Linked DNA regions of Homo sapiens. The protein of the gene in region 2 purifies or fractionates together with the protein of the main gene of each other region. This does not show direct contact. Each region holds a gene or a part of one and is shown on either strand. Other genes may lie near its edges.

Region 1 (2,996 bases), on a different chromosome or scaffold from region 2:
GGATGGTCTGTGACTCCAGTGTTTAGTATCCACCCACCACATAACATCAACTTTTCCTCAAGTTTCTTGGGGAGAAGCCATTAGGTCCACTTCATGACATTCATGATACACAAGTGAAAGTCATCGCTCCCAGGTAAGAACCCGTAGACACTGTCTCTCTCTCCACCTCTGGGCTGCAGTACGAGGAGCTGCAGATCACAGCAGGCAGACATGGGGACGACCTGCGCAACACCAAGCAGGAGATTGCTGAGATCAACCGCATGATCCAGAGGCTGAGATCTGAGATCGACCACGTCAAGAAGCAGGTATGGTGAGGGGCAATGGAGGAGAAAAGCATCATTTTTTTTATTAGGTCATGAGGCAGTAGTCACCCATCATTTAGTAAAATTCTTTGGGAATTGATTGATAAGCAGAGAAGGAAAGACATGCAGTTCCTAGGCTCAGTGAGAACACTCTGGCTCAGAGACATGGATCACACCCAAGGATATGAAACAATCACCTGGGCAGAAGCACTCTCAGCTGGTCAAAGCTGTAAAAGTATAGTCTAGAGGCATTGGAAGGGCTTATGTAAGAAGACTGATTGACTTTGGAATTGCAAAGGACCAAGTTGGGCAAGATGTCAGGTCAGAAAGCATCAGTAACATTGCTGCAAATCTGCTCAAGGTTCACGGTGAAAAAGCAAGTGAAACCAGGGCTATGAGGAAGGAAAACGTGGCCCAAGCAGGTGAGAGGATGTGAGGCAGGAGGAAGGCAAGGTCACAACAGCCTCATGTGAAAACTCATCACCTCAGTTGACAACGTTTGCAAATTATTGTGGCATCCATGTAAGGTCATCAAAAATGGTTTTGGTTTTTTTGCTTTGGAGCCAACACTTAATGTCCTTGGTCTTGTGTCCACTGTGGCATCTTCCATTGGTCATCACCCACATCTTTAGGCAGTGGAGTTAACAGAAAGGGCACAGGATTTTATCATGTGACTCCAGACGTAAAAACTTTGAAGACAGTAAAAAGGCTAGACAGGAAGAGTCAGAGCTCATTTACCATCAGTTCTGGGTTCCTGGTGCCTTCTTCACTGGAAAAGAACCAGCCAGGTTTATTCTTCTCTGGAAGACCAGATGACAAGTTCTTTCTCTTCCTTTGCCCTCCTAGTGTGCCAACCTACAGGCCGCCATTGCTGATGCTGAGCAGCGTGGGGAGATGGCCCTCAAGGATGCTAAGAACAAGCTGGAAGGGCTGGAGGATGCCCTGCAGAAGGCCAAGCAGGACCTGGCCCGGCTGCTGAAGGAGTACCAGGAGCTGATGAACGTCAAGCTGGCCCTGGATGTGGAGATCGCCACCTACCGCAAGCTGCTGGAGGGCGAGGAGTGCAGGTGGGTAACTGACGCGACTTCCTCCAACAGCTGAGTCCATCTTCAAGGTTCTGGCACTGAGCACAACTTTAAGGTGCACTGCCCAAGGCCATAATTGCTCTTCTTGGGAGAAAACTAAAAGTTTTCCCATGGACTTTCCCACCCACTGAGGCTTCCCATGCTCGTCCAGGGAAGGTCTCACCCTCCCTGTGTTCCTCTCCACAGGCTGAATGGCGAAGGCGTTGGACAAGTCAACATCTGTAAGTACCTTTGTTTGCCTTCCTCCCCTGCCCTTGCACTCTCCTGACTGGGCTCAGGCCGGCAGGATGAACTCATTGTGGCTTCTTGTGTCCTTGTCCCCTCCCCACCACAGCTGTAGTGCAGTCCACCGTCTCCAGTGGCTATGGCGGTGCCAGCGGTGTCGGCAGTGGCTTAGGCCTGGGTGGAGGAAGCAGCTACTCCTATGGCAGTGGTCTTGGCGTTGGAGGCGGCTTTAGTTCCAGCAGCGGCAGAGCCACTGGGGGTGGCCTCAGCTCTGTTGGAGGCGGCAGTTCCACCATCAAGTACACCACCACCTCCTCCTCCAGCAGGAAGAGCTACAAGCACTGAAGTGCTGCCGCCAGCTCTCAGTCCCACAGCTCTCAGGCCCCTCTCTGGCAGCAGAGCCCTCTCCTCAGGTTGCTTGTCCTCCCCTGGCCTCCAGTCTCCCCTGCCCTCCCGGGTAGAGCTGGGATGCCCTCACTTTTCTTCTCATCAATACCTGTTCCACTGAGCTCCTGTTGCTTACCATCAAGTCAACAGTTATCAGCACTCAGACATGCGAATGTCCTTTTTAGTTCCCGTATTATTACAGGTATCTGAGTCTGCCATAATTCTGAGAAGAAAATGACCTATATCCCCATAAGAACTGAAACTCAGTCTAGGTCCAGCTGCAGATGAGGAGTCCTCTCTTTAATTGCTAACCATCCTGCCCATTATAGCTACACTCAGGAGTTCTCATCTGACAAGTCAGTTGTCCTGATCTTCTCTTGCAGTGTCCCTGAATGGCAAGTGATGTACCTTCTGATGCAGTCTGCATTCCTGCACTGCTTTCTCTGCTCTCTTTGCCTTCTTTTGTTCTGTTGAATAAAGCATATTGAGAATGTGAACATGTTGTGTTAGATTGTATTGCTGACCACTTCCTGGTTTAGAAACATTCGCACCCCACAAATGGTTTCTTATCTTTGGGGAACTGCTGCTCTCCCCACTGACCAGTCATCATGGAGGATGAGTCGGGAGCTCCCCCTCCACAGCCTACTCCATCAGTCAACATTATGTGATTCTGTCGGACACTCCGGTGGACAATCACCAACTACTCAGCCCTCACCACTTGGGAATTTTTCCACAAATGGAGTCTTTTATAAAGCATCAGAACAAAAAGGGAAGCTAATTCCTGGAATCTGGATCAGCATAATCTGATAACTAAGATTCATTTATATTTTTTATTTTTCAGCCCCATCATTTGGTGGCTTGACCCCACACTGATCTCTGAGACTCCCTCTCTCCCCGGCTCCCCACCACCAGGGAAATATTGCACTGACCCTGCAGATCAGAAACACTTGGTAAGAAGCAGGTGCTTGCCCTGACTCTATGATTATTAAGACTTTTG
Region 2 (3,500 bases):
ATTACAGGCGTGAGCCACTGCACCTGGCCAAGAGACCCCTTTTGTTTGCTCCTCAAGGTTTCAGGTTTCAAGAACTAAGAGAGGGCAATGTGACATGGCTCACCCTGTAAATCCAACACTTTGGGTGGCTGAGGCAGGAGGATCACTTGAACCGAGGAGTTTGAAACCAGCCTCAGCAACATAGTGAGACCCTGTCTCAACTAAAAAAATTTAAAAATTTTTTAAAATACCCCAGTGTAGTAGCATGCATCTGTAGTCTCAGCTACTGAGGAGGCTGTGGCAGAAGGATTACTTGAATCTGGGAGGTGGAGGCTACAGTGAGCCATGATTGTACTACTACACTCCAGACTGGGCAACAGAATAAGAGACTGTCTCAAAACAAACAAAAAACCAGAAAACATTAAAAAACAAACAAACAAACAGCACTGAGGTTCTTTACCAAAACTCGAGAAGCATCAGGAAGCTTCAGGAGTCTGACTGTCAGCATTTCCCTTTGTGAGTATTTCCCTGGGCTGTTCTATAGTTTGGGTTTAATTTGCTTCCCCTAGAAGGCTGGACTCTAAACACAGCCCTCCAGAGGAGCACAGCTTAGCCTCAGTGGACTTGTTCTTGGCTGTAACTGCCTCGTCTAGATGGCAGGAATCCTCAGGTGGCTGTGGCTGCTATGTGCTGTGAGGCCTTGGCTTGTACAGGGAGCGGGGACACACAGAAAGGACTCTGCTTCTGTTTACCTTTGTAGTCCTGACCCAGTTCCAGGCTGAGGTTATGAGCCTCAGCACATCTAACCCAAGAGCAGCCTCCTGCCCCTGACTCTGTGTGACAATACAGAAGTCACTTAAGTACTGAGCCTCAGTGTATCCATCTGTAAAATGGGAAGAGTGATACTTACCTTTAAGGGTTTCTAAGCAGGTCATGTGAAAGAATTATGGGAAAAGTGCTAAGCACAAGCCTGGTACACAGACGGAAATCTAGGAGAGAACCCACAACCCCTGGTTTCCAAATCCAGTGAGTGTCCAAACCACAAACAAAGAGTTAAATTCAAAAGTGGCAGCAAAAGAGGAAGTGAGCAGAACCAGCCACAGTGACACACGTGCTACAGAGTTCAACAACATCGTCACAGGGCAGTACCTGGAGGACTTGCTCTCCTATAGATCCATGGAAGGCAACTACAGCAGCGCTGGGAAGACAACCAGCAGGGCACAGAGGTGACTGCGAGGCTGGAATGAAGCAACCTGAATTACAGGCAAATCAATACTATTAATGATTATGTATGGTGAAAGTCCATCACAACAGAGTTCAGTGGCCTCTGTCAGTAGTGACATTAATGGGACAGAAATAAAACCCCCAGTCTATAAGACCCAAGAGTAAACAAAACAGGGATATAACGTCCACTCATTGAGGGTCTAGTACAATAATACATAAAAAGTGTTTTATAACGTAAAAGGACTACATAAATATAAGAGATTCTTATAGTGCTGATAATAAATTCCAACTGGAAGCACTAATGGATCTAGGTATGTGTGACTTTAAGAGACATAATGAGGGGAAAATCAAGCACCTTCAAAGCTCAAATGAAGGATTCAAGGAATTTAACTGTCAAGTGAAAGTAATATCAAGTTCCTACATGTTAGTAATGCTGGTAGAAATGCTAGGAATTGGCCGGGCACGGTGGCTCACACCTGTAATCCCAACACTTTGGGAGGCCGAGGCAGGTGAATCACAATGTCAGGAGATTGAGACCATCCTGGCTAACACGGTGAAACCCCATCTCTACTAAAAATACAAAAATTATCCAGGTGTGGTAGCATGCACCTGTAGTCCCAGCTACTCAGGAGGCTGAGGCAGGAGAATCAATCACCTCAACCCGGGAGGCAGAGGTTGCAGTGAGCCGAGATCGTGCCATTGCACTCCAGCCTGGGTGACAGAGTGAGACTCCATCTCAAAAAAAAAAAAAGAAAGAAATGCTAGGAATTGCCTGGTCCAACTCCTTGGCTTTACTGTTGAGGAAATAAGCCTGGCTCAGCAGTTTTTCAGTTGTAACATACTGCAAGTGTTTGGAAAGAGGAAAAAGGAGTGGTACTGGGCGTGTCTGTGGGCTTTCAAGCCCTTTATCATGCCTCTTTGCCAAATGGCCTAGAAGTTTAAAAGCTGAGGTTTTTCTTTGTTGAAGGATAGCCTGTGTTATCTTTGGGTTGGGAACTTATTTTGCAATTTACTTGCAAAATAAGAACAATAAAAGGACTATGAAGAGCTCAGCTACAGCTCTTCTTCCATGCAAAACAGGACACCTCATCACCCAGGCTCCATGCTGGGGTTTGATGGTCTCTAAACCTCCTGAAACTGTCTAAAAATTATTGCATATGTACTAGATACCTAAAATTGTCTGGGGATTACAGAAGAATAACCTTCTGTAAGATTAATCAGCAAATAAGTAGAAGAGGGATAACAGAATTAGAAAATCATTTTGCGACTGCCATTATAATAGCACAAGGATCATCAATAGATGCTAAAACTATTAGGTGAAAAGTTTTGGGGGATGAGATAGTACCCATGGTGCCAAAGCACCAATGAATGGATTACTTCCTGACATACCTTCATAAGGAAGAGATCCAGTGGTTATCTTAACTAAGTGACCAAATCCAGCGTCATCAGCAGACGGGGCAAAGTGGCATGTGCTTTCTGGCATGGCACTATATGAATCACACAACATTACCTATGAAGTGTTTGTGCCAAAAATGTTTGACTTGAATGAATCTAGTCAAGACTTTAGATCTAACTTCCAGTTTATAAAAAATATAAAGGAAAGGAATACTCTGAAGTATGTTATAACTGAAAAAGTACCGATGGAGGAATTAAACCACACCATAAGGAAAGAACCAGATAAATCCAGAATGCTGGACATTGCACATGGCAACTGGCCTAGTCTTTTAAAAAGTCAATGTCATAAAAAAAAACCTTCGAAAGAACTGCTTTTGATTTTTACAGACTAAAGAGAAATAATAACCAAATGCAATACGTGAACCTTGATTGGATCCTGTAAAAAGAAAAAAAAGGTTATAAAAATAGTCTTGGAACTATTGTGGGAAATTTGTAAGTAGGCTGGGTGTTAGATCATATTAAAAAATTATTTCCTCTCTTTCTTTTTTTTTTTTTTTTTTTTGAGACAGGGTCTTACTCTGTCCCCCAGAGTGCAGTGGAACTATCTGGGCTCACTGCAACCTCGGCCTCCCTGGCTCAAGCAATCTTCTCATCTCAGGCTCCCGAGTTGCTGCAACAACAGGTGCATACTACCACACTTGGCTAATTTTTAAAGGTTTTTGTAGAGAAGAGTTGCCACTATATTGCCCAGGCTGGTCTCAAACTCCTAGGCTCAAGCCATCCTCCCACCTCAGCCTCCCAAAGTGCTGGGATTATAGGCATGAGCAACTGCACCATGTCTAAAATTATTTTCTTAATGGTATTTACTGAGGTTATGTATGAGAATGCCTATACTTCTTATT
Region 3 (3,500 bases), on a different chromosome or scaffold from region 2:
GGCTGGTCTTGAACTCCTGGGCTCAAGCAATGTTCCCGCCTTGGCCTCCCAAAGTGCTGGAATTAGAAGCGTGAGCAACCGTACCTGGTCAACAGTCTCTAAAAATTTTTTTTTATGACAAGGTGTCACTATGCTGCCCATGCTGGTCTCCATCTCCTGGCCTCAAGGGATCTTGCCGCCTCAGCCTTCCAAGTAGCTGGATTACAGGCTCCAGCCACTGTGCCCAGCCAGTTTAACTCATTCTTTTTTATATATTTTTTACTTTTATCTTAATTTATTTATTTTTCTGAGACAGGGTCTTACTCTGTCACCCAGGCTGGAGTGCAGTGGCAAGATCTCAGCTCACTGCAACCTCTGCTTCCTGGGTTCAAGCGATTCTCCTGCCTCAGGCTCCCGAATAGCTGGGATTACAGGTGCCCGCTACCACACCCAGCTAATTTTTGTATTTTTGTAGAGACAGGGTTTCACCATGTTGGCCAGGATGGTCTTGATCTCTTGACCTCGTGACCTGCCCGCCTCAGCCTCCCAAAGTGCTGGGATTACAGGCTCGAACCACCGTGCCTGGCCAACTCATTCTTGTTAACAGCAAAATATCCTGTAGTGTGGATGTACCCATAATTTCTTAAAATGTTCCCCATAGACAATCAGGTTATATCTAATTTTTGCCAGTGAAAAGCATGGTGTAATACACATCTTTGCTCTTATAGCCTGAAGCTTTTAGTCTGTAGAACAGATTCCCCCAAATTGGAGAGCGAGATAAAAGATTTATGTGTCTTTAAAGTTTCAAGAGATTCTGCCTCATTACTTTCCCTAAAGGTTGAGGCAGTTCTTATCCCCACCAGTAAGGTGCCAATTTTTCTGTTGGTACAATCTTAATAACCCTGGGTGTTATTTGTTTTACATTTTGTGGGTAAATGTAAACTCACGGTAAATGTAAACACAGTACCCATGTAAACGAATGGGTAAATGTCTCATTTTAATTTTGCTTTTCCTGACAGGTCACGCAGAGCATCTTTTTTTTTTTTTGAGACGGAGTCTCCCATTGTCACCCAGGCTGGAGTGCAATGGTGCAATCTTGGCTCACTGCAACCTCCCCCTCCCGAGTTCAAGTGATTCTCCTGCCTCAGCCTCCCAAGTAGCTGGGATTACAGGTGCCTGCCACCACACCCAGCTAATTTTTGTATTTTTAGTAGAGACAGGGTTTCACCATGTTGGCCAGGCTGGTCTCAAACTCCTGACCTCAGGTGATCTGCCCACCTTGGCCTCCCAAAGTGCTGGGATTACAGTTATGAGCCACAGAGCCCAGTTGTCAACATTATTTATTAAATCAGCCACTGATTTAAATGCTTCCTTTAATCTTCAGTGCTTTTAAGGGGAAAATACATTTCTGGCTACAGGAGATGGAATGCAATAACCTAATGTCAAACAAAGCCGCCCCCTCCTTTACAGACTGCAACTCCCCTGTAGCTGAAGGTTTGCTGGTTGGTAATGGGTTTTCCGTGTGTGCTTTGTGTGTGTCTCTGTAGGCAGAAGAGCACTGATCGTACTGGCTCACTCAGAGAGGACGTCCTTCAACTATGCCATGAAGGAGGCTGCTGCAGCGGCTTTGAAGAAGAAAGGATGGGAGGTGGTGGAGTCGGACCTCTATGCCATGAACTTCAATCCCATCATTTCCAGAAAGGACATCACAGGTAGGAGGAGTTCCTCCTCCCCTCTTTAATTAGTTCTTTGCGGATCTCCTTGCCTGTGGGTCCTCTGGCCCAGCTTTGGCCCCTCTGGCCCCAGCCTCTCTTTTTCTTCTCTGCAGGTAAACTGAAGGACCCTGCGAACTTTCAGTATCCTGCCGAGTCTGTTCTGGCTTATAAAGAAGGCCATCTGAGCCCAGATATTGTGGCTGAACAAAAGAAGCTGGAAGCCGCAGACCTTGTGATATTCCAGGTATGGGGGGACATCGGAAGGGGTGTCAGGGACATTTGCGTGCTTATTGTCCTAGACATGTACCTAATTAGCTATGAGATCTTAAACAGTTACCCACTTTACTGCATTCTCTGCAAATAAGGGTGATTACTTTAAAGGTGCAGTATTACATGGATTTCACAGATATTGGGAATCTGGCTGTATTACTGTTGCATGTGTAAATGCAACTGCAAGGCCAGGCACGGTGGCTCACGCCTGTAATCCCAGCACTTTGGGAGGCCAAGGCAGGTGAATCACAAGGTCAAGAGACCAAGACCATCCTGACCAACATGGTGAAACCCTGTCTTTACTAAAAGTACAAAAATTAGCTGGGCGTGGTGGCATGTGCCTGTAGTCCCAGCTACTCTGGAGGCTGAGGCAGGAGAATCACTTGAACCCGGGAGGTGGAGGTTGAAGTGAACCAAGATTGCGCCACTGCACCCCATCCTGGTGACATGGCGACAGAGCGAGATTCTGTCTCAAAAAAAAAAAAAAAAGAAAGAAAGAAATGCAGCTGCAGAGATGATGTACAGTCCTTGAGCTTGCTTTCTTCCAGGTACTTAGTCTCCCCTTCAGTTAGCGATTCCTTCAGTTAGCGATTCCTTCAGTTAGCGAATCCTGCGGTTAGCGATTCCTGTTGGACTCTCTCAAAATTTGCAGTTCTCCTCCTTTCTCCATAAGAATCCCAAATACTTTGTAGAATAATCCATGAGACATTGACTTCTCTGCCATTGTAGCCTGCCAGCTGAAGGGGGCTTTGAAACCCTGCTGAATGTGTTCCTGCAGCAAACCACGGCCTTTCTTCTTCGGGAAGCTGCCTTACCGTTTAGCAGACAATGCTGGGATTGTGCGTGCATCTCGTCAGTGATCTTTCCTATAAATGTGACTGTACTCAATGACTTTGCTTTTACAATTCCAGCCAGTCTTTTGATATTGAACATAGAATGTATATGATCCTGGAAACCACGAGGAGGGTGGTACAGGCTGTGTTTTTTTTTTCTCTCTCTCTCTCTTTTTTTTTTTTAGTTATTCAATCAGCTACAAAACATCCAATCCTTGAAGTCCTTTATTTTACCCACAGGCCTGTTGCTAAGAATCAAAGCCACATGCCACTAGCCAGTACCCCAAAGGACGGCTTTAAAAAAAAATTAAATTGGAGACAAGGTCTCACGGTCACCCAGGATGGAGTGCAGTGGCATGATCTCTGCTCACTGCTGCCTCAACCTCCTGGGCTCAAATGATCCTCCCACCTCAGTCTCCCGAATAGCTGGGACTATCAGTGCACACCACCATGCCCTGCTAATTTTTTAATTTTTTTGTACAAATAGGGTCTCACCATGTTGCCCAGGCTGGTCTCAAACTCTTGGGCTCAAGTGATCTGCCTGCCTGGACCTCCCAAAAGGCTGGGATTATAGGCATGTGCCTTTCATATCTTTAAATCATGAATCAAGGATAAGAAAACCTCCTGGTATAGTCCTTACTCTGCTTTTATTAGGATAAGAGGTCAGACAAGACTTTCTCATGGGAAGTCCCTGATGAACCTT
Region 4 (3,500 bases), on a different chromosome or scaffold from region 2:
GGCCGAGCTTGCAGTGAGCCGAGATCTCGCTACTGCATTCCAGCCTGGGCGACAGAGTGAGACTCCGTCTAAAAAAAAAAAAAAAAAAAAAAAAGCAGTCGGGCGTGGTGGCTCATGCCTGTAATCCCAGCACTTTGGGAGGCCAAGGCGGGCAAATCACGAGATCAGGAGTTCGAGACCAGCCTGGCCAACATAGTGAAACCCCATCTCTACTAAAAATACAAAAAATTAGCTGGGTGTGGTGGCGGGCGCCTGTAATCCCAGCTACTCGGGAGGCCGAGACAGGAGAATTGCTTGAACCCAGGAGGTGGAGGTTGCAGTGAGCTGAGATGCGCCACTGCACTCCAGCCCAGGCAACAGTGCGAAACTTTGTCTCAAAAAAAAAAAAAGCAGAGTTTGACTACAGGGACAGAGATTTGCTCCAGGCTCACCCTTCCTGTTCACCATTTCACCTGTGTCTTTTACTTTTTCCATGATGAACACACAAAACTCTTCAAACACCTTTTATCTATGGCCAATCTGCCAAGCTCTATTCTTTTTTAAGTTTACACATTTTTTTTAAGTTCACATTATTTTTCCATTATAAAATCAGCATTAGCACGTTGCAGAACATTTCCATTAGAGGAAAAGGAGAGGGAGGGAATCACTCATCATCCTAACATAGCCACTGACAAAATTTTTGTTTTAATTCCTTTCAGTCTTTATGCATATTTTTAAATGATGTGATCTTTTAAACTTTTTATTATTAAAATGTAAAAGCATCTGGGGCCTGGTGCGGTGGCTCACACCTGTAATCCCAGCACTTTGGGAGGACGAGGCAGGCAGATCACTTGAGGTCAGGAGTTTGAGACCAGCCTGGCCAACATGGTGAAACCCTGTCTCTACTAAAAATACAAAAATTAGCTGAGTGTGGTGGTGCACAATTGTAATCCTAGCTACTCGGGAGGCTGAGGCAGGAGAATTGCTTGAACCCAGGAGGTGGAGGTTGCAGTGAGCTGAGATCGCACTACTGCACTCCAGCCTGGGTGACAGAGCAAGAGACTCTGTCTCAAAAAAAATTTTTTTAATTAAAAAACATTCAGAAAAGCAAAGAGTACAGTGAATTTCCATATGCCTAACACCTCAATTCAACAATTACCAATATAATGCCAACATCATGATACTTTATCCTTGATTATTCAGGATATATCTCCCAAAACTCAGTATACTCTCTAATATTATTATAAACCTAACATAATGAATAGTGAGTAGTTTCCTACTATCATTTAATAACCAGTTAATGTGGCCAGGCCTGGGTGATGCTGGTAAATTTACAGTTCTGAATGTCCTTTCTGTTTGTGTCTTTGTTAGTTTTGTTTTCCTTTTTCTAGTTTCTGGGCTGAAATTTCAAACTTGCTTATGTCACATAGCCATATTCCTTTACCCCAGTGGTCTCTGAGCTTATAATACACGTAAATACACTACATTGGCAGTTGATTGTGTGTTACTTTATGACTGATCTCAAGGTATTATTTAGCATGTCATTTATTTATGCCTTGTCTCTCCGACCACTTTTTATATTCCTTAAGGTAGAGGGCATATTTTATCCTAATCTGATTTCCCAGGTTGCCTAACAGTACAGCTTAGTTGGAGCTCAATACATATTGCCTGATTAATATCTCTCATTCCCCCACTTGCTAGTTGTATTTTTCACCTCTGCTTCTCCCTTCAGCTTATAATTGCAAGCTCTTGGTTCCTCACTCCCTAACTCTTTCTTCTTAGCTCTGTCTTTCTTTGCCTCATACCTATGTTTTAGAAATTACTGTAGCTCAATAACCTCAGATAATTAATTCATCTTTTAAAGGCAACCAGTGATTAGCCTTCCAAAGGAATTATTAGACTTTTTTTTTCTGCTTAAGAAATTATGTTTTACTACTTTTAGAGAGTGTAGGATTAATGTTTTACATTTTCAGAATATTTTACCATAATTAGACCTCTGAAATGGAGAGGTCATATCATTCTCCAAGGATCATTTAATTCATAGACCCCTGCCAAGAGAGTGCTTGGTGGTGTGGTGGTAGTAGTGATATTTACACCTGTTTGCTGGGAGAAGAGCCAAGGTAGTCAGCTGATTTTACAGAAAGGTTCTGGAAAGTCACTGGGTGGTCACAAGACATCACCTTGGGCTGCTGATACAGTGGGAATTCCATCTTAGAGGTCATGCTGCCACCGTGGCAGGACACATGGCATATGGCACATGCTTTCCTTTAGCTCGTAGACTGTTCTATATCTTATGGGTATGTGGTAACTACTGCCCAAAGGTAGACTGCAGACCTTTTATAATGAGCTAGACATACCAGTGTCCAGAAAAGCATTTTGAACTATATGGAAGTTTTTTGGTTTTTGTTTTGTTTTGTTTTGTTTTGTTTTGTTTTGTTTTAGAGGACTATGTTAGTTTTTAAGCTCCTGGAAGGCAAAAACAATCTCCTTTAATAATAATAGTGATGATAATAATAGCAACAACAATTATAATAATGACTAACATTTATTGAGTGCTTACTCTGAATCAGGCACCTTTCTGGAAACTTTAGCTATAAGAATCCATTCACTTCAAACAACCATCTTAGATGCCATGTTTATCTCTTTTTTTAAAGATGAGGGAATTGAATTAAAGAAGAGATTAAGCAACTAGCCCAAGGTCATGCAACTATGTAGTAAAGCTGAGACTCAAACCTTAGGCAGTCTTGTTCCAAAGCCCCTGCCCTTAACCATTAGCCACATAGTGCTGAGTGTTTACTGAGAACATTTCAAATACATTTCAAACACCCAGCAAATTACAAGTCACAATTATATGGATTTAATCAGAAAAAAACAGGGGAACATGCTGAAGTAAAGTGCTATTTTTATGTTTGACAGATGAGAAAAGACCAAGCAGTATGAGTTTTAACTTTGATTCAGTACTGGTTAGCTTTTCATAACAAAATCCTATTAATCATACTTTAACTTATTTGGATAGATCTTAAATTGAATGCAAATCCCTAGTGCCATAGAATGAGTGAATTATATGTTATCATAGTTATTCATCAATGAGTTGCCTTTAAGAATATAATCTGAGGCCAGGTGCGGTGGCTCACTCCTGTAATCCCAGCACTTTGGGAGTCCAAGGTGGGTGGATCACCTGAGGTCAGGAGTTCAAGACCAGCCTTACCAACATGGTGAAACCCTGTCTCTACTAAAAATACAAAATTAGCCGGCCGTGGTAGCACATGCCTGTAATCCCAGCTACTTGGGAGGCTGAGGCAGGAGAATTGCTTGAACCCAGGAGGCGGAGACTGCAGTGAGCCGAGATTGCACCATTGCACTCCAGCCTGGGCAACAAGAGCGAAACTCTGGGGTCTCAAAAAAAAAAAAGAAAAGAAAAAAAAAGAGTATAACCTGCACCTGGGTCAGATTTTGCTAAATGCATATTTATTTAGCTAAATAAATTCCATATTTATTTAGAGGTTCACCTTGCTTGGAAT
Region 5 (2,570 bases), on a different chromosome or scaffold from region 2:
ATCCTCCAGAGCTGAAGCAGAACATTCCAGAACCCGTTGTGGAAAAACCCTTTCAAGAAGCTGTTTTAAGAGGCTCGGGCAGCGTCTTGAAAATGGGCACCGCTGGGAGGAGGTGGATGACTTCTTTACAAAGGAAAATGGTAGCAGCTTCAGTGAGAAACTGCCCTTACAAACAGTCCCTTCTCTGCTGTCAATCCAATACTGCTCCCAAATCCTGTTTTCAGTGTTCATTTCCCTCAAGGCAGGCGCTGGGCTCCCACGACCCCTCAGGACAGATCTGGCCGTCAGCCGCGGGCCGCTGGGAACTCCACTCGGGGAACTCCTTTCCAAGCTGACCTCAGTTTTCTCACAAGAACCCAGTTAGCTGATGTTTTATTGTAATTGTCTTAATTTGCTAAGAACAAGTAATAAGTAAATTTTTAAAAAGCCTTTCTGCTGGGTTGGATTAAGTCCTGATGTGACATTGTTTTTGTGTGCGAATAAGGCACGGGCAGCCTCAGTCTCGTGCAGAGCCAGATACTTTATTCATCACTTGGGCGATTTGAAACTGCCAACTCCCTCCCTCCCTCCCCCACCCTTGATTCTAAAGTGACATAAGAATGGTGATAAGTCTGAACTCTTTCACCTCTTAAATGCCATATTATTGCCCACAGTTGCCAAATACAAAATATCAAGTCCTCTGCTGAAGAAGACTGAGGTCCCATCGTTTCCTGTGTCGCAGGTCACTTCTTCACCAGGTGGCTGACTGCATCATTGTGAGGCAGAGCCATGCTGTGCAAGTGTCATAAGTCATCCCACTTTCAACTCTCAGGAACACTCGCAGCCAGTGCCACGCTGTCCTCGCCATCCAATATTGATAGCCACCCCAGTTCCTGCCAGCCAGCCTGGCACACATAACCATAGGATCCCCTCTGGTCATGGGTCACCATGCCTTTTCTTAAACTGCGCTTCTAGTGACATGGCCTTAAACGATGGGGTCCCCAAATGTACAGTGCTCCTCGATGGCAAGGTTGTATCTGGCGCCCTTCCCATCCTTATAGGTGCTGGTCACGATCCTCAGCCAGCCTCTCTCGCCCTGTGAGAAGTGGGATCGCGCGTCAGCCCATCTGCAGCCGTCTCCCGCTCCCCTTGCTGCCGTCAGCCCCCTGCCCCCTGCTTTCTGCCTCCATCTCTCAGGCCAGCCTTGGGGGATCCAGACAGCCCACTCAGCTGCCCCTCAGCTTTCCCATGACCCCTGTTCTGAAATACCTTTTGTGAAACATTTCACTTGGTTAATGTTTAACATGAGGGCCCTCTATGCCAGAAGTGAATTCATCTCACAAAACATGTTGACTCTAGACTGGTGCCTCCTCCAGCTACTACTACCCCCATTAGTCACCTAGTAAAAAATGACGACATTTCATCACCTGCACATGAACCGCTTTCCCCCCATTTCTTAATCATGAATTTCTGTGTCTTAAATTATTAATGGCTAAGACTAGGTCTGGCAGTTAATTTCTCTCTCCTGGATTTTTGGCCCAACTCGAGTATTTTTGAAAAACCGACACAGTATTTTAGGGGAGCCCAAAAACCATGATGGGAAAAAGAATGAGCTGGTTGTAAAGGAAGAGGGTGGCAGAGCCCCTCTCCAGCAGTGCTCACAGGGACTTCCCCAGGGCACCAGGCACCATCTGGAGACGGTTTTGGTCACACTGGGATTGCGGGGAGTCACCTAGTGGGTGGAGGGGCCAGGGATGCTGCTGAACACCCAAAGTGCACAGGATGGCGGCAGCCGCGCATGTCAGAGAAGGGTCTGGCCCCAAAAGCCACTCGCGCGGTGGCTGAGACAGCTGGAGCAAGGAACCCTCTGTCAAGGCCCCAGTTTTTAGCTAAACGTAAACAGAACCATTCAAGCGAGAGGAGTACCAGGACGTTTTTTTCTAGGAATGACCTTAAGAAAATGAAAACATCTTACCCATGGTTCACCCCATGAATTCCGGACAATCCAGTACTCAGTCCCATCACTGATGCCCCACCCAGCCACAGAAACGACATGGTTTATATATGTGGTGTCCTGGTATTCGGCATAGATGCCTCCGGTGTAGTTAGCCAGTCTTTCTGTTGCCATTATTCCACAGCTGAGAGCAAGCAGTTAAAGAATTACCACTTTTAAATTGAGAGAATTTACCGTCATTAGAAATAATCTGATATGGCTGGGCGCCGTGGCTCACGCCTGTAATTCCAGCACTTTGGGAGGCCGAGGCAGGTGGATCGCTTGAGTCCAGGAATTCAAGACCAGCCTGGGCAAGATGGCGAAACCCCACCTCTACAGAAAATACAAAAATTAGCTGGGTGTGGTGGTGTGCGCCAGTAGTCCCAGCTACTCGGTGGAGGGGGCTGAGGCGGGAGGATAGCTTGAGCCCGGGCGGTCAAGGCTGCAGTGAGCGAAGATCATACCACTGCACTCCAGCCTGGGTGACAGAGTGAGACTGTGTTTCAAAAAAAAAAAAAAAAAAAAAAATCTGGTATGACAACAAAGTGTAAACCCGACTCAGGTAGTGTATATCTGACGGTTCTGGATAAACTTCTGT
Region 6 (3,500 bases), on a different chromosome or scaffold from region 2:
ATGCAGCGGCCCCCACACTTCCGGGGGCCCTTCCCGCCCCACCAGCAGCACCCGCAGTTCAACCAGCCTCCGCACCCCCACAACTTCAACCGCTTCCCGCCCCGCTTCATGCAGGACGACTTCCCGCCACGGCACCCCTTCGAGCGGCCGCCCTATCCCCACCGCTTCGACTACCCCCAGGGGGACTTCCCTGCCGGTGAGTGTACGGGCGCCTGGGTAGGGCCTGGCGGAGGCATCCACGGCTCGCCTGCCGAGCAGGCTGGTGGCGCTGCTTGTGGCCCTGCCATGCTCCTGAGTGCACAGTGACAGACACAGGGTCATGGGACGTCCGAGGAGCCCGGCCTGGGTTCTCAGGAAGTGGGGGCACAGACTCAGTTTTGCCGCCCTGATGAGGCCCGGCTGGCTGCAGATGAGGCAGAGCCAGTAGGAAAAGGTTCCTGCCGTGGGTGGGCGTGGCGAGGGCAGGGCGGGGCCTCGTTCTTTTTACTGCTGCTGCTTGTTTTTTGCATCAGTTTTCCCGTTGTATTAGTTCGTTTAAAAAATCAATACTTGGCGTGGTGTCGGGCGCCTATGGTCCTAGCTGCTCAGAAGGCTGAGGTTGCGGTGAGCTGTGATCGCACCACTGTACTCCACCCTGGGCGACAGACCGCTGTCTCAAAAAAAAAAAACAAAAAACTACTTTTCTTTTTTAAAAAAATTTTATTTTATTTTAAATAGAGATGGGGTCTTGCTATGTTGGCCAGGCTACTTTCAAACTCCTGAGCTCAAGCAGTCATCCCACCTCAGCCTCTAGAGTAGCTGGGTCTACAGATGTGAGCCACCATGCCTAGTATCTTTGTTATTGATTTTATTTCTAATCTTTTAGTACTTTTTTTTTTTTTTGAGACAGAGTCTCACCCTGTTGCCCAGGCTGGAGTGCAATGGCACAATCTCAGCTCACTGCAACCTCCGCCTCCCAGATTCAGATGATTCTCCTGCCTCAGCCTCCCGAGTAGCTGGGATTACAGGTGTGCGCCACCATGCCTGGCTAATTTTTTGTGTCTTTAGTAGAGACAGGGTTTCACCATGTTGCCCAGGCTGGTCTCGAACTCCTGACCTCAGGTGATCCGCCCGCCTCGGCCTCCCAAAGTGCCGGGATGAAAGGTGTGAGCCACCTCGCTTGGCCTTTTGTTGTTGTTGTTTGTTGTTTTTTTGAGACTGAGCCTCACTGTCACGCAGGCTGGAGTGCAGTGGCACAGTCTCGGCTCACTGCAGCCTCCTCTTGGGTTCAAGTGATTCTTCCACCTTGGCCTCCTCAGTAGCTGGGATTACAGGCATCAGTCACTATGCCCAGCTAATTTTTGTATTTTTAGTAGATGGGGTTTCGCCATGTTGGCCAGGCTGGTCTCAAACTCTGGGCCTCAAGTGATCTACCCGCCTTGGCCTCCCAAAGTGCTGAGATTACAGGCGTGAGCCACCATGCCCAGCCTTCTCTCTTTAAATACATTTCTGATTATAAATGCAGCTTGAAGACCGCTTGGCACATTTATTGCTTTTACTTTTTGGCTTGGGCTGACATGATAAGTCCCACAGCCTGGACGGCTTCAACAGCTGGAATGTATTGTCTTAAGGATCTGGGGGCTGGAGGTCCAAGGTGGAGGTGTGGCGGGTTCAGGTTAGTGTCTTGGAGGCCTGTCTCCTTGGCTCATAGGTGACCGTCTTCTCTCTACATGTCTGTGTCCTAATCTCTTATTATAACGGCAACAGTCACGTTGGATTCGGGCCACTATGGCTTCATTTTAACTCATTTGTGTCTTTGAAGGCTCTGTCTCCAAATACAGTTCCGTCCTGAGCTACTGGGGGCTGGGACCTCAGCGTATGGATTCGGAGGGTCACAACTTAGCCCTCACCGTGCAGTTTTGGGGTTTTGGGGTTCTCTTCTCTCAGCCTCAAGCTCCCTCGGCTGTGCCTATGGGTGCGGGACAGGCCCCTCGGAGCCTGGCTCCTCGGTGCCTTGCTGCCTGGTCTTAAGCAGTGAGAGAAGATGCTGGACAGGCTCCCAGGAGGGGTTCGTCTCCTGGCCCTTCACTGAGCCCCTCCCCTCCAGCACTTGTCGCCTGGGAGATCCTGACTGGCCTGTGGTCCTGAGGCAAGTCTCTGTTTTGCAGAAATGGGGCCCCCTCACCACCACCCTGGCCACCGCATGCCTCATCCTGGCATCAACGAGCACCCGCCTTGGGCTGGACCCCAGCACCCTGACTTCGGCCCTCCCCCCCATGGCTTCAACGGGCAGCCCCCACACATGCGGCGACAGGGCCCACCCCACATCAACCACGATGACCCCAGCCTGGTCCCCAATGTGCCCTACTTCGATCTCCCTGCTGGGCTGATGGCCCCCCTCGTGAAGGTAATGCCCCACAGTGGGCTCCAAGCTGAGCACGCTTACCATACTGGTCCCCGTTTCTCCTTGTGAAAAGTGAATGCACGGGACCGGGTGCCTTCCGGGGCTCCCCTTCATCTCCCACTCCCTAGGGACCCTGATCCGTCAGTGGGAGGTGCCGAACCGGAGTAGCACGGTGTGGCTGTGAGCGACACCATGTCTGCCCTGCCCTGCCCCTCCTATCCCTCCCACCACAGGGAGCTTCAGCCATGTGGGGCTAGCTAGGCTATGAGGCTCGAGTCCTCTCTTCGTCCTTCTTGGTCCAGGGCCTCAGAAGCACCTTGTCCCAGGGCTGCTGATGGAGGGAATGTCTTAGAAGGAGCCACCTGTGAGCTGTGCCTACCAAGCACACAGGGAGGGGGGTGGCCCTGGAGAAGCCGGGCAGGGCTGGCAGCAGCTGGTACCACTGTGGGATGGCCGGAGCATAGGGCAAGAGGTGAGGCAAGAAGGGGCCAGGTCTGGCCAGGCGTAGTGGCTCACACCTGTAATCCCAGCACTTTGGGAGGCCGAGGCGGGCGGATCACGAGGTCAGGAGATCGAGACCATCCTGGCTAACACGGTGAAACCCCGTCTCTATTAAAAAATACAAAAAATTAGCCAGGCGTGGTGGCAGACGCCTGTAGTCCCAGCTGCTCGGGAGGCTGAGGCAGGAGAATGGCATGAACCCGGGAGGCGGAGCTTGCACTGAGCCGAGATCACGCCACTACACTCCAGCCTGGGCGAGAGCAGGACTCCGTCTCAAAAAAAAAAAGGGGGGGTTGGGGAGGCCAGGGCCGGGGCTTGGGGCCTCCAAGGGCATGCTGGCCACTGCCACTTCCCACCCCCTCAGACACATCCACCTGAAGTCCAGGCAGACTTCACGGAGCCATGGGCAGCAGGGAGAGCTGCGGGCGGGGGCCCAGGCAAGCCAGGCAGGGCAGGGCCTCAACAGGAGGACAGAGACGGAGCAGAAGAAGGATACAGGCCAGGGGGCTCCAGGGCCGGGGCTGAGGCTGTTCTGAGCGGGGGCCCAGGGTAGGCATTGCAAGCAAAGGGTGACGTGAGGGGCCCGCTGCATGTCTGAATAAACCAGAGGGTGTTC
Region 7 (4,174 bases), on a different chromosome or scaffold from region 2:
TAATGTTTTTATCTTCTGTCGAGATGGGGTCTCATAATGTTGCCCAGGCTGCTTTCAAACACCTGGCCTCAAGCGATCCTCCCACCTTAGCCTTCCAAAGGGTTGGGATCACAGGCATGTGCCACTGCGACCAGCCAGGATAATAATCTTTCATGTGATTTTCCGACTTTAAGCCCCCTGCACCCAGAGACCTTTCTGTCTCATGCCTGAAGGGAAGGAACTGGCCACGGAAAAACCTGGGAAATTCCTGGGGGAACTCCCTGAGGCAAGACTGCGCCTGGCAATTTGTAAGAAGGGGGCTGGTGCGACCTGAGCAGAGAGCTAATGGGAGGGTGAGGGAAGCCAAGGGAGATGGGGTGGGAGGTGGGAGGAGTCTTGCGGGACAATGGGAACCCAGGGGAGGCGTTAGAGCAGGGGAGGTGCATCGCGCACTGGGATTTAGGTCCCAGCAAGGTCGCTGGGGGGATGCCTTTTAGGGAATGGACTCTGTGGTCAACTACTCCTACCTGAACTGCCCCCAAAGCATTTGCTTTTCCCTCTCCACAGTCAGGACCAGTGTAACCTTAGACCCCTAATACTGCCATTTTTACTGTTGAGAACACCGAGAAGTAGTAAATGCAGAAAATCTAAAGTATAGTGCCTAAGACAAATTGGCGCCTCAAACCTAATTTCTAAATAAAATTAATAAATAATATTGCAGAAGTGGGGAGCAGGTCAGCAATCCAGGAAGAGGCACTGGCAGGAGCAAGAGACGGAATTTGAGCCTACTCGCGGTTATGAGCCTACTCGCGGTTACATTTTGGCCAAACTCAATTCCTGGTCTCTCTGAGCCTCGGTTTCCCTACCTGGACTGCGCGGTGTGTGTTAATTTCTCTGCCCCATTTATCTCCCCTCTCCTAGCCCCGCCCCAGCGTCACCAGTGGGACGCAGAGACTCAGGACTAGGAAAGCACTTTTAAAGCGTTAAGGGATTGCGAAGAGCTACGGAGAGGCTTCCTCAGGGCTATACTGGGTCCACCTCCCCTCATGGACCGCGGGCGCGCTCTGGCGGCCGGGCCGCTCCAGGCTGAAGCCGCCGGACCACGTGTGTAGTCGCAGCTGCCATCTTTCATCCGGGCATCGGCCATCTTGGTAAAGGCAATGTTCTAGATTTTCGCCTCTGCCCGCCCCTCCTGGTTCATCAACATATTAAATGAGCGTAGGGAATGAGGGCGTATTAAGTGTCCTCTTTTTGAAGAGACAAAGAAGTGGCTGACTACCCTGGCTTGGGTCCGAGGCCCAGCCATCTTTTTCTTTACCAAAATGGCGGCGGTACTGAGGCGCAATGAGTGCGCGCCGCCAGGAGCTCAGCGCGCAGGCCCCATGATGACGTCACGGAGGCGCGACCGGGCCGGCGCTGGGGTAAGAAGGTAGGAGCGTCTGCGGCGCGGGCGGAACCCGGGTTCGGGGAGCAGAGGCGCGGGGCGGGGGCTGCTTGGCCTGGGACCATCCCCTGGGAAGGCTGGAGGAGGGGTGCTGGGAGGCAGGAGCACTTCTGGCGTCCAGTCTGAACCGCACCTAGTTGGGGGCGATGCCCATTTCCAGACTAGACGATTGAAGCCCGACGCGACAGCATGTTCGAGGCCACCTGGCCCCGGACTGCCCCTAGGCAGCTTCTGGTCTCGAGAGGGACAGAGTTGGGCGCGGACTCCCCCGGCCTCTTGTAGGGGGATTAGTGGTGGGGGACTTCAAAAGGGATAGCCGGGAGGGCTGCTTAGAGGAGGCATTGTTGAATTTTGTATTCTGTTATTTTACCTTCACATCCGTGGGGTCTTAATCCCCATGGGTCTTGATTCGCTTCTAAGTGTGCCCCTCGCCCAGCCTGAGCCACTCCCTGGGTACCGCCTGGGCTCCCAGCTCCTGCCATCTGGGGAGTCCACCTCCTCACTAACCCCAGAGGGCTTGTGTGACCCATAGATTGGGCTTCCCGGCTCTAACGCCCTCCACACCTTCCCATCTCCCTGGAATACAAATCGCCCCCTTTTCCAGCCTACCTCCTGCATCCCGCGTGCAGGCTGCGCTCTCCCCCACTCATTCAGACTTTTCCTTAGATGTCTCCTTTAGGAAGCCCTTTGACCCAGGCTGGGTCAGAAGCCCTCTCCGGGCTTCCCCGGCGCCCTGCGTGTCCTTATTAGGACTCTGATTGCATGTGTTGGCTCTTCTCTGGGAGTCCCATGCAGGCAGAAAGCTCATTTGTGCCACCTCTTTCCCCAGCATCGCACACGTATTAGGTGCCCAGTACATATTTATTGAATGACGTGTGCAAGTGAGTGAGTGTTTACTACACAGAGAAAAGTGTCTGTATTTCCAGCTTGGGCTGTCATAACTAATACCACAGACTGGGTGGCTTAAACAGCAGAAATTGCCAGGCACTGTGGCTCACACCTGTAATCCAGGCACTTTGAGAGGCCGAGGCAAGCGGATCACTTGAGGTCAAGAGTTTGAGACCAGCCTGGCCAACATAGTGAAACCCCGTCTCTACTAAAAATACAAAAATCAGATAGGCATGGTGGCACATGCCAACATGGTGAAACCCCATCTCTATAAAAATACAAAAATTAGCCGGGCGTGGTGGCAGGTGCCTGTAATCCTAGCTGCTTGGGAGGCTGAAACAGGAGAATTGCTTGAACCGGGTGGGTGGAGGTTGCAGTGAGCCGAGATTGTGCCACTGCATTCCAGCCTGGGTGAAAGAGCAAAACTCCGTCTCAAAACAAAAAAAAGCCCCAACGTGGAAACAGCCCAAATGTCTAGCTGTGGACAATGGATAAACAAAATGTGGCGTATCCATGCAGTGGAGGAATATTCAGCCATAAAAAGGAACGAAGGGCCAGGCGCAGTGGCTCAGGCCTGTAATCCCAGCACTTTGGAAGGCCGAGGCGGGAGGATCACTTGAGCCCAGGAGTTCAAGGCCAGCCTGGGCAACATAGTCAGACCCTGCCTTAAAAAAAAAAAAAAAAAGCTAGGCATGGTGGCCTGCACCTATAGTCCCAGCTACTTAGGAGGCTCAGGTGGGAGGATCACTTGAGCCCAGGAGGTCAAGGCTGCAGTAAGCCGAGATTTCGCCACTGCACTCCAGCCTGGGCGACAGAGTGAGACCCTGTCTCCAAAATAAATAAATAAATGTACTCTCACACTGTGTGGCCTTTTGTGTCTGGCTTCTTTCACTTAGTATTGTGTTGTTGAGGTTCAACCACATTGTATCATGTATGTATTGGTGCCTTGTTTCCTTGTTTCCTTTTTTTTTTTTTCTTTTAAGAGACAGGGTCTTGTTCTGTTGCCCAGGCTGGAGTGCAGTGGCACAATCATAGCTCACTGTGGCCTCAGCCTCCTACGCTCAGGCGATCCTTCCACCTCAGCCTCCTAAGTAGCTGGAACTACAGGCACAAGCCACTGTGCCTAATTATTTTTTATTTTGTAGAGACGGACTCTTGCTATGTTGCCCAGGCTGGTCTTGAACTCCTGGCCTCAAGCAATCCTCCTGCCTCAGCCTCCCAAAGCACGGGGATTACAAACGTGAGTGATCGCACCCGGCCTGTGATTCCATTGATATGGACTGAAATGTCCAGAACAGGGAAAGCCACAGAGACAGAAAGCAGATTGATGGTTACCAGGGGCTAGGGGAAGAGGAATAGGGAGTGACTGCTGATGGTGATGTGGCCTCTTTTGGGGGGTGCAAGTGTTCTGGAACTAGACAGAGGTGGTATTTGCACAACGCTGTGAATATACTTAAACACTGAATTGTACACCTTTTTTTTTTTTTGAGATGGAGTCTCGCTCTGTCGCCTAGGCTGGAGTGCAGTGGTGTGATCTCAGCTCATTGCAACCTCCGCCTCCCGGGTTCAAGTGATTCTCCTGCCTCAGCCTCCCGAGTAGCTGGGATTATAGGCATGTGCCACCACACCCAGCTTTTTGGTTTTTTTTGAGAGTGAGTCTCACTCTGCCGCCTAGGCTGGAGTGCAGTTGCACGATCTCGGCTCACTGCAACCTCTGCCTCCCAGGTTCAAGCGGCTTTCCTGCCTCAGCCTCCTGAGTAGCTGGGATTAAAGGTGTCCGCCACCACACCCAGCAATTTTTATTTATTTTTAGTTGACACGGGGTTTCACCATGTTGACTAGACTGGTTTTGAACTCCTGACC

Evidence for each region.
Region 1: the proteins of TRIM26 (region 2) and KRT6B purify together in Homo sapiens (affinity purification with mass spectrometry, with the first as the bait; one large-scale study listed by BioGRID). This does not show direct contact.
Region 3: the proteins of TRIM26 (region 2) and NQO1 purify together in Homo sapiens (affinity purification with mass spectrometry, with the first as the bait; one large-scale study listed by BioGRID). This does not show direct contact.
Region 4: the proteins of TRIM26 (region 2) and METTL8 purify together in Homo sapiens (affinity purification with mass spectrometry, with the first as the bait; one large-scale study listed by BioGRID). This does not show direct contact.
Region 5: the proteins of TRIM26 (region 2) and CTSZ purify together in Homo sapiens (affinity purification with mass spectrometry, with the first as the bait; one large-scale study listed by BioGRID). This does not show direct contact.
Region 6: the proteins of TRIM26 (region 2) and CHERP purify together in Homo sapiens (affinity purification with mass spectrometry; one large-scale study listed by BioGRID and IntAct). This does not show direct contact.
Region 7: the proteins of TRIM26 (region 2) and CCDC124 purify together in Homo sapiens (affinity purification with mass spectrometry, with the first as the bait; one large-scale study listed by BioGRID). This does not show direct contact.

What each region holds. Positions count from the first base shown.
Region 1 is NC_000012.12:52,446,151-52,449,146, reverse strand, and holds the end of KRT6B (keratin, type II cytoskeletal 6B), read left to right. Parts: intron 1-179; coding exon 180-305; intron 306-1,148; coding exon 1,149-1,369; intron 1,370-1,573; coding exon 1,574-1,608; intron 1,609-1,721; coding exon 1,722-1,957; 3' UTR 1,958-2,496; downstream 2,497-2,996.
Region 2 is NC_000006.12:30,199,907-30,203,406, forward strand, and holds part of TRIM26 (tripartite motif-containing protein 26), read right to left. Parts: intron 1,233-3,500; 5' UTR 1,129-1,232; intron 1-1,128.
Region 3 is NC_000016.10:69,716,561-69,720,060, reverse strand, and holds part of NQO1 (NAD(P)H dehydrogenase [quinone] 1), read left to right. Parts: intron 1-1,526; coding exon 1,527-1,691; intron 1,692-1,807; coding exon 1,808-1,938; intron 1,939-3,500. UniProt on the Homo sapiens protein: Flavin-containing quinone reductase that catalyzes two-electron reduction of quinones to hydroquinones using either NADH or NADPH as electron donors.
Region 4 is NC_000002.12:171,332,991-171,336,490, reverse strand, and holds part of METTL8 (tRNA N(3)-cytidine methyltransferase METTL8, mitochondrial), read left to right. Parts: intron 1-3,500. UniProt on the Homo sapiens protein: Mitochondrial S-adenosyl-L-methionine-dependent methyltransferase that mediates N(3)-methylcytidine modification of residue 32 of the tRNA anticodon loop of mitochondrial tRNA(Ser)(UCN) and tRNA(Thr).
Region 5 is NC_000020.11:58,994,685-58,997,254, forward strand, and holds the end of CTSZ (cathepsin Z preproprotein), read right to left. Parts: intron 2,118-2,570; coding exon 1,955-2,117; intron 1,076-1,954; coding exon 965-1,075; 3' UTR 501-964; downstream 1-500. UniProt on the Homo sapiens protein: Exhibits carboxy-monopeptidase as well as carboxy-dipeptidase activity. Capable of producing kinin potentiating peptides.
Region 6 is NC_000019.10:16,521,938-16,525,437, reverse strand, and holds part of CHERP (calcium homeostasis endoplasmic reticulum protein), read left to right. Parts: coding exon 1-196; intron 197-2,147; coding exon 2,148-2,386; intron 2,387-3,500. UniProt on the Homo sapiens protein: Involved in calcium homeostasis, growth and proliferation.
Region 7 is NC_000019.10:17,931,641-17,935,814, forward strand, and holds the start of CCDC124 (coiled-coil domain-containing protein 124), read left to right. Parts: upstream 1-1,374; 5' UTR 1,375-1,408; intron 1,409-3,455; exon of another isoform or gene 3,456-3,551; intron 3,552-4,174. UniProt on the Homo sapiens protein: Ribosome-binding protein involved in ribosome hibernation: associates with translationally inactive ribosomes and stabilizes the nonrotated conformation of the 80S ribosome, thereby promoting ribosome preservation and storage.